Linked DNA regions of Homo sapiens. The protein of the gene in region 2 interacts with the protein of the main gene of each other region in a pairwise test. Each region holds a gene or a part of one and is shown on either strand. Other genes may lie near its edges. The genes, in order: LPXN and RNF214.

Region 1 (3,821 bases), about 59 Mb from region 2:
AATTTTACTAATGTTTATGCAGCTACTTGAATAGAATCTGTATTCTGTTTATTGGGTCCAAAGTTTTATTTATTTATAATTTACTTACAATTATATGAATATGAAATCATCATCATATATATTATCTAAACTTTCTGCACCAGAGATTTGCAAACTTGTTCTGTAAAGAGGCAGATAGTAAGTTTGTTAGGCTTTTGTGGACTATAAAGTCTTTGTAGCAACTACCCAACTGTTCAGAAAAGCAGCTATGGACAGTAGATAAATGAATGGACATGGCCAGATTTGATCCAAGGACCTTAGTTTGTTGATGCCTGCTCTATATTCTAGTTTATTTTTATTTTTTGACAAAAACTGACAGGAGATATAATACTTTTTATAATTAGATGACCAGGGAGAAATAGAGAAAAAAGGCAGAGAGAACTTGTTTAGATTTTTGGTCTAGTACATATTAATATATTTTTAAAATACCCCCATCTCTGATTTTAGCTTCATATCCAGGGGATTCATTATTACAGTTGCATTTCCAGTACTTTATGTGTGGTTTAACATTATTTGAGTTTTGATTTGTTCATATGACTTTTTTGTTTTCCCTCTATAGTGAAGCCCAAGAGCCAAAGGAATCACCACCACCTTCTAAAACGTCAGCAGCTGCTCAGTTGGATGAGCTCATGGCTCACCTGACTGAGATGCAGGCCAAGGTGAGTGCAGGCCAAGGTGAGTGCAGGCCAAGGTGAGTGCAGTCCAGATGATAAACAGGGCCCATGGGGTCACCAGTTTATCTTTGTGGAACTCAGCTCTCCATTCTCCCACTTAGGAATTTTCCTAAGTTGTCATTGCTTTTTTCAGACTAAATTTAATTCCATGAATTAACCCATCTTTGTACTATGTGTTATTTGGACACAAAAATTAATATATAATACAGACTTTGATCTCAAGGAGCTGGAGTGTGCTTGGCAAAATGAGGCATAAGTTTCTTAACATTTATAGAATAAAAGCCAGGTGTTTTGCAAACATATGTGGAGCAAACATTACGGATATAGAGAGATTTTGGAGATTTAATCAGAGTTGAAACTTGGGATGGACTCTGAAGAACTGGCAGAGTTTGGACATAAAGAGATGGGAAGAAAGGTGGTTTTAGTTGCAATGAGTCCTGAGGGCAGAGGTATCTAAGGCTTGATGATGTGGAAGGATTTTTCATTTGTTTGTTTGTTTGTTTGTTTGTTTTTGAGATGGAGTCTTGCTCTGTTGCCCAGGCTAGAGTGTAGTAGCGCTATCTTGGCTTACTGCAACCTCCGCCTCCCAGGTTCAAGCGATCCTCCTGCCTCAGCCTTCCGAGTAGCTGGGATTACAGGTGCCCACCACTGTGCACGGCTCATTTTTGTTGTATTTTTAGTAGAGACGGAGTTTCACCATCTTGGCCAGGCTGGTCTCGAACTCCTGACTTCGTGATCCACCTGCCTCGGCCTCCCAAAGTGCTGGGATTACAGGCGTGAGCCACTGCGCCCGGCCAAAAGGACTGTTAAAGAGACCTGACTAAGCAGGACAGAGGAGACCAGTGAGCAAGCTGAGACACAGCAAGGGAGATCAAAGTATGGCTCTGACAGTAGGAAGGATGAGAAGTCCCAAGCCCATATTGAGATAAAATCTGCCTCTTTGTTCTAGCCTCTAGAACACCTCTAAAGTGGTGAGCTCACATAGTCGGGCATGGAATGGAAATCTCAGATAAATGGGCTTAAAGATTTATTAAAGGAAATATAATCCAGAATCCTTAAGGTGGAGAATCCAACCATTTTAAATCTGGTTGGAGGATTTGATATATACTCATGAGATGACTATGAAATAATTTCAAAGCAGTATATAAAAATGTATATGATTGGAGAGGGCAGGGACCTTATCTTTAGAGCTCACCTTGGGACTCCCAATGCTCAGCACAGGGCCTGATACATCGTGAGCAACACATATTTATTAGAGAGATGAGTAAATAAACATCACAAACAAGTTTTCCTTAATGACTGACATCCTTTGATGGGCCAGTGTCTACAATAAAGCTGGGTAGATTGGCTCATTATGCTGTATATCTGAAAATACTAGAAAAAATGTACATTAGATTTAATTGTGTTGCGTTTCTAGTTGATTTAGCTTGTGTATTGGTTGATTTAAATTTTTAATTTACAACACCATCTTTTTTTTTTTTTTTTTTTTTGAGACAGATTCTTACTCGGTTACCCAGCCTGGAGTGCAGTGGCATGATCTCGGCTCACTGCAACCTCCACCTCCTGGGTTCAAGCGATTCTAGTGCCTCAGCCTCCTGAGTAGCTGTGATTACAGGCGTGTGCCACCATGCCCAGCTAATTTTTGTATTTTTAGTAGAGACGAGGTTTTGCTATGTTGCCCAGACTGGTCTCAAACTTCTAAGCTCAGGCCACCTGTCTGCCTCGGCCTCTCAAAGTACTAGGATTACAGGCATGAACCACTGTGCCCGGCCCCATTTATCTTTTGAATAAGCTGCACTTTCACATTGTACACAAATCAAAAGTGCAAAAAGCTTGCACTGAACTGTTTCCTTCTCAGCTCTGCACCCTAGCCATCCAGTTCTGCCCCACCGGAGATAGGCAGAATTTCCTGTCTCTTCTATATCTGTTCAGAAGTATTCTGGAAGATAACAGTGAAGAGATAGAGATGTAGGTGTAGATGTAGTTATATTGTATTTTTACTTATTTTTCATAATTAATGTCAGTCACCCTTTCAGACCTTTCAGACACTAACCTTCTGAACACTAACCTCTTGAATATTAACTAACATATATTAGAGAAGGAAGGATGTCTGTCAGATGATCAAAATGTCTCGAAGCAAAATGAGCATTTTGATTGGTGACAGTGTGATGTTATAACAGGCAGTAAAAGTAGGATAAGTAGAGGTCTTAAGGCAGACAGTAACAGATCACATTCAGGAGATGAAGAGCCCAGCTGTCCTTTTACAACATAGTATTAATAAAAGATGAAATTGGGAAAGATAAAAAGGGAGGACAGTGGATGGGAGGCTTTGAATGTCTGTCTGATGAGTGAAGACTTGATGTGGTGGCAATGGAGAGCCATTGTAGTTTTCTGATGAGTGAAGTATTCAGTAGATAGATGGTAGCAGTCGCCCAGCTGGAAAGGAGTAGAGAGAGCCAGAATCAGGTTATGAGGTTATGAAGGGTCAGTTAGCCTTTTTTTTTTTTCTTTTAATTTGAGGATCCTTCTTTGAATGGTTTATAATAATTTTGGGCTTTTGCTTAAATAATTCCAATCCATCAACAAGTCTTATCTGACCACTTCTCACCACCTTCTCCTGTAATACTGATCTAAGTCATTATCTGAAAATCTCCCTGTATTCACTCTTGCTTGTCAACACTTAGTTCTCCACTCAGCTACCACAGGGATCCTCCAGATTCCTTCACTCCTGTGCTTGAAATCCTGCAATGGCTTCCATCACCTTGGAATAAAACCCAAGCGTTTACCATGAGGTTCCTATGTGATCTTTGCCTCTCTCTCCATCACCTTCTCCTGCCGTGTTCAATCTCACTCCCTCTGCTCTAGCCCCACTGACCTCTTTGACTTTTCTTCTAATGTGCCAAGTTGTTTTATTCCTCGGGGCCTTCCCTTCCCCTAGAATGCTTTTCCCATAAATGTCAATATTTCTAAGTCCCAAGTATCTACTCAAATATTACTTCCTTAGAGGGGCCTTCTTTGATTATTACCTCCATCTAAATCAATTCTTCTTACCATCTTGCTGTGTCCCTTCTATCTCTTTCTATAACTTATCTCTGTCTGACATTACAA
Region 2 (3,821 bases):
TTTCTACTACTAAAATGTAATTGGGGGGTGGTGGGGTTCAGGGTGGGAGATATTTCTTCATATTTGGTGGAGAACTTGCTGGCTTGTTTTGTTTTTTGTTTTTTTTGCTAGCAACCATCATACTACTCTCATACAGTGCCATACAATGACTTCATTCTGATGTTCAGTAAATAAGAAAGCCAGTAGCCATTGTCTAATCTTATGGCAAGTAGGAACTTTATGACCTACGTGTAGTCTCTTTCACTGAGTAACTGATGAGTGCAGGACATTAGCATTCATATTTATCATCTTTGACCTTGCAGGAAGAATCCTTGTTAATTCTCTGAGTCACATCTTAAGAAGTACAGTGTATCCTGCCTTCTAGTGACGGGTGTGCTTTGTTGTAGGAGAAAGTATGGGCACAACAGACTGTAGAGGGCAGACGTCTCATCTCAGACTTGAGGCTTTCTCTCAGTCAGTCATTGGGTCTTGTTTGGGTTATTTTGTGGGACCGATGATTAATGCAGCGTGGATGTTGGTGTCCGTTTGCCAGAACTACATTGCTTAGCTTGCTTGGAAGCTGGTAAGGGGAAAGAGTAAAAAGTTAGTTACCTGTGGCGGAATTCTAGGTGTTAGTGATTCTGCCTCTTTTAAAGTGTCTCTGAACGATTCTAAATATAACTTTTTTCCTTTATAGACTGACTTTAAGACAGCTGATTCAGAGGTAAACACAGATCAAGATATTGAAAAGAATTTGGTAAGTATTTAAACTGTCCTTGTTATATGAAGCCATTATCAAATAGAAGATCTAGAGGCATATCATCTCAGTTGGAAAAGGTGCAGGAGTCCCTTTCATAAAATTCCTGACAGATGGTCAGGTGACTTTTCCTTGATCACTTCCAAAGATGGGAAGCTTACTACCTCACAAAGCAACCAGTTACGTTTAAAAAAAAAAATAGCTCTTATTGGCCAGGCACAGTGGCTCACACCCATAATCCTAACATTTTGGGAAGCCGAAGTGGGTGGATCGCTTGAGCCCTGGAGTTTGAGACCAGCCTGGGCAACACAGTGAAACACCATGTCTACAAAAAATACAAAAATTAGCCAGGTGTGGTGGTGCATGCCTATAGTCCTAGCTACTCAGGAGTCCTAGCTACTCAGGAGACAGGTGGGAGGATCACCTGTTCACCTGAGCCAAGGAGGTCGAGGCTGTGTGAGCCGTGATTGTGCGATTGTACTGCAGCCTGGGTGACAGAGTGAGACCCTGTCTCAAAAAAAATTAAAAAAAAAAAAAAAAAAAAAGGCCGGGCACAGTGGCTCACGCCTGTAATCCCAGCACTTTGGGAGGCCAAGGCAGGTGGATCACCTGAGGTTGAGAGTTTGAGACCAAGCTGGCCAACGTGGTGAAACCCCATCTCTACTAAAAATACAAAAATTAGCCGGGCGTGGTGGTGTGTGCCTGTAATCCCAGCTACTCGGGAGGCTGAGGCAGGAGAATGGCTTGAACCCAGGAGGCAGAGGTTGCAGTGAGCCAAGATTGCACCACTGCACCCCAGCCTGGACAACAGAGAAGCTCCATCTCAAAAAACAAAAATGAAACCTCTTATTAGATTTTGTTCTGAGATGAAGATAAAAACCTTATAACTTCTTGCTTCAGGCCGGGCGCGGTGACTCACGCCTGTAATCCTAGCACTTTCAGAGGCTGAGGCGGGTGGATCACCTGAGGTCAGGAGTTTGAGACCAGCCTGACTAACATGGTGAAACCTCGTCCCTACTAAAAATACAAAAATTTAGACCAGCCACGGTGGCTCACGTCTGTAATCCTAGCGCTTTGGGAGGCTGAGGCAGGCAGATTGCCTGAGCGCAGGAGTTCGAGACCAGCCTGGGCAACATGGCGAAACCCCATCTCTACTAAAAATACAAAAAATTAGCCAGGTGTGGTGGCGTGTGCCTGTAATCCCAGCTACTTGGGTGGCTGAGGCATGAGATTAGCTTGAACCTGGGAGGCAGAGATTGCAGTGACCCGAGATCGTACCACTGCACTCCAGCCTGGGTGACAGAGTGAGACTCTCTCAAAAACAAACAAACAACAACAAAAAAACAAAAATTAGCCTGTAATCCCAGCTACTTGGGAGGTTGAGGTAGAAGAATTGCTTGAACCCAGGAGGCTGAGGTGGCAGTGAGCTTCTTGCTTTAGGCCGGGCACAGTGGCTCATGCTTGTAATCCTAGCACTTTGGGAGGCCGAGGCGGGTAGATCACGAGGTCAAGAGATTGAGCCCATCCTGGCCAATATGGTGAAACCCCATCTCTACTAAAAATACAAAAATTAGCTGGGTGTGGTGGCGCATGCCTCTAGTCCTAGCTACTCAGGAGGGTGAGGCAGGAGAATTGCTTGAACCCGGGAGGTAGAGGTTGCAGTAAGCTGAGATTGCACCACTGCACTCCAGCCTGGTGACAGAGTGAGAATCTGTCTCAAAAAAAAAAAAAAAAAGTTCTTATTGTAGCTTTCTCTTGAGCTTTATGGAATAAATCCAGTTCCTTTCCTGCTTGTTAGCCATGTGTATATTTGAAGTTTTTTTATGCCTCCTGCTCTTATTCTCTTACTCCCCAAGTTCAAACCTTTCCAGGTGAAACATCCTCAGATGTTTTTAGTATTCTTTTTGATACTATTTTGATACTATTTTCCATTTCTTTATCATCATTCTGGTTACTTTCACTTAGACATGTTCTATTTTATCAATATTTGTTTTAAAAAGTGATCTTGAGAACCATATATAATAGTACAGATACAGTATAATTACTTTATAATACAGTGGGATCTCTCAGTATCTCTCATTCTAGACACTATTTCTTAAGCTTACATTGACTTATTTTGGCAGTTTTTTCATACTGTTAAGCTTTTAGTCAAATTCCATCCAGTCTTTTTTTCATGTATTATTTACTTGTGTCTTTTTAATTTTATCCCCAGATAGTTGGCTTTTGAAGAGAACGTCACACTTACCTTTGTTAAAATGCTCCCTTTGATCCATCCCTGGCCTTTTGTGGCTAAAACTTCCACCTTTAAGTATATGGATATCTAAATGTACACTTTTTAAAGGGAAGGTAATGCTGGGAAAGGCACCCCAGGAAGAGGTCTTTAGGGTAAGATATGTTAATTTATAAAGAGTGGTATAAAAAGGGAAAGTGCTTGTAGCAACCAGATAAGAGAGTGGATATTTGGTGCAAGTTGAAGAAATTGAAGGGCATACGGAAAAAAGTTACTGGTGTACATTAACCAGATGAAGCCAAGAAAAGTTTTAAAATAGAGACTAGCAACTTGGGACTTAATTGTAACAGTCAAGTAGATGAAACAGGAACGAATGGAAACCCAGCAAGTTACTGGGCCAGAAGAGGCCCAGGGTTGAGTTTTGTTTGGCTCTATCTTTTGGGTGGTAGTGAGGTCCACATGCTTTTAAAAAGGCAGTGAGGCCGGGTGCAGTGGCTCACACCTGTAATCTCAGCACTTTGAGAGGCCAAGGCAGGGGTATCACCTGAAGTCAGGAGTTCAAGACCAGCCTGGCCAACATGGCAAAACCCCATCTCTCCTAAAAATACAAAAATTAGCCGAACGTGGTGGCGGGTGCCTGTAATCCCAACTACTCTGGAGGCTGAGGCAGAGAGAATTGCTTGAACTCGGGAGGCGGAGGTTGCCGTAAGCCGAGATTGCACCACTGCACTCTAGCCTGGGCGACAGAGTGAGACTCTGTCTCAGAAAAGAATAATCTACTGGTTTCAACTTTTCTTTGGTTAAGATCCTCTTTCAGAATCTTTTGGAAACTTTGAATTCTTATCTCAGAAAAAT

The links.
Region 1: the proteins of RNF214 (region 2) and LPXN interact in a two-hybrid assay, tested with the Homo sapiens proteins (one large-scale study listed by BioGRID).

The regions. Positions count from the first base shown.
Region 1 is NC_000011.10:58,551,718-58,555,538, reverse strand, and holds part of LPXN (leupaxin), read left to right. Parts: intron 1-598; coding exon 599-698; intron 699-3,821. UniProt on the Homo sapiens protein: Transcriptional coactivator for androgen receptor (AR) and serum response factor (SRF). Contributes to the regulation of cell adhesion, spreading and cell migration and acts as a negative regulator in integrin-mediated cell adhesion events.
Region 2 is NC_000011.10:117,239,125-117,242,945, forward strand, and holds part of RNF214 (RING finger protein 214), read left to right. Parts: intron 1-676; coding exon 677-736; intron 737-3,821.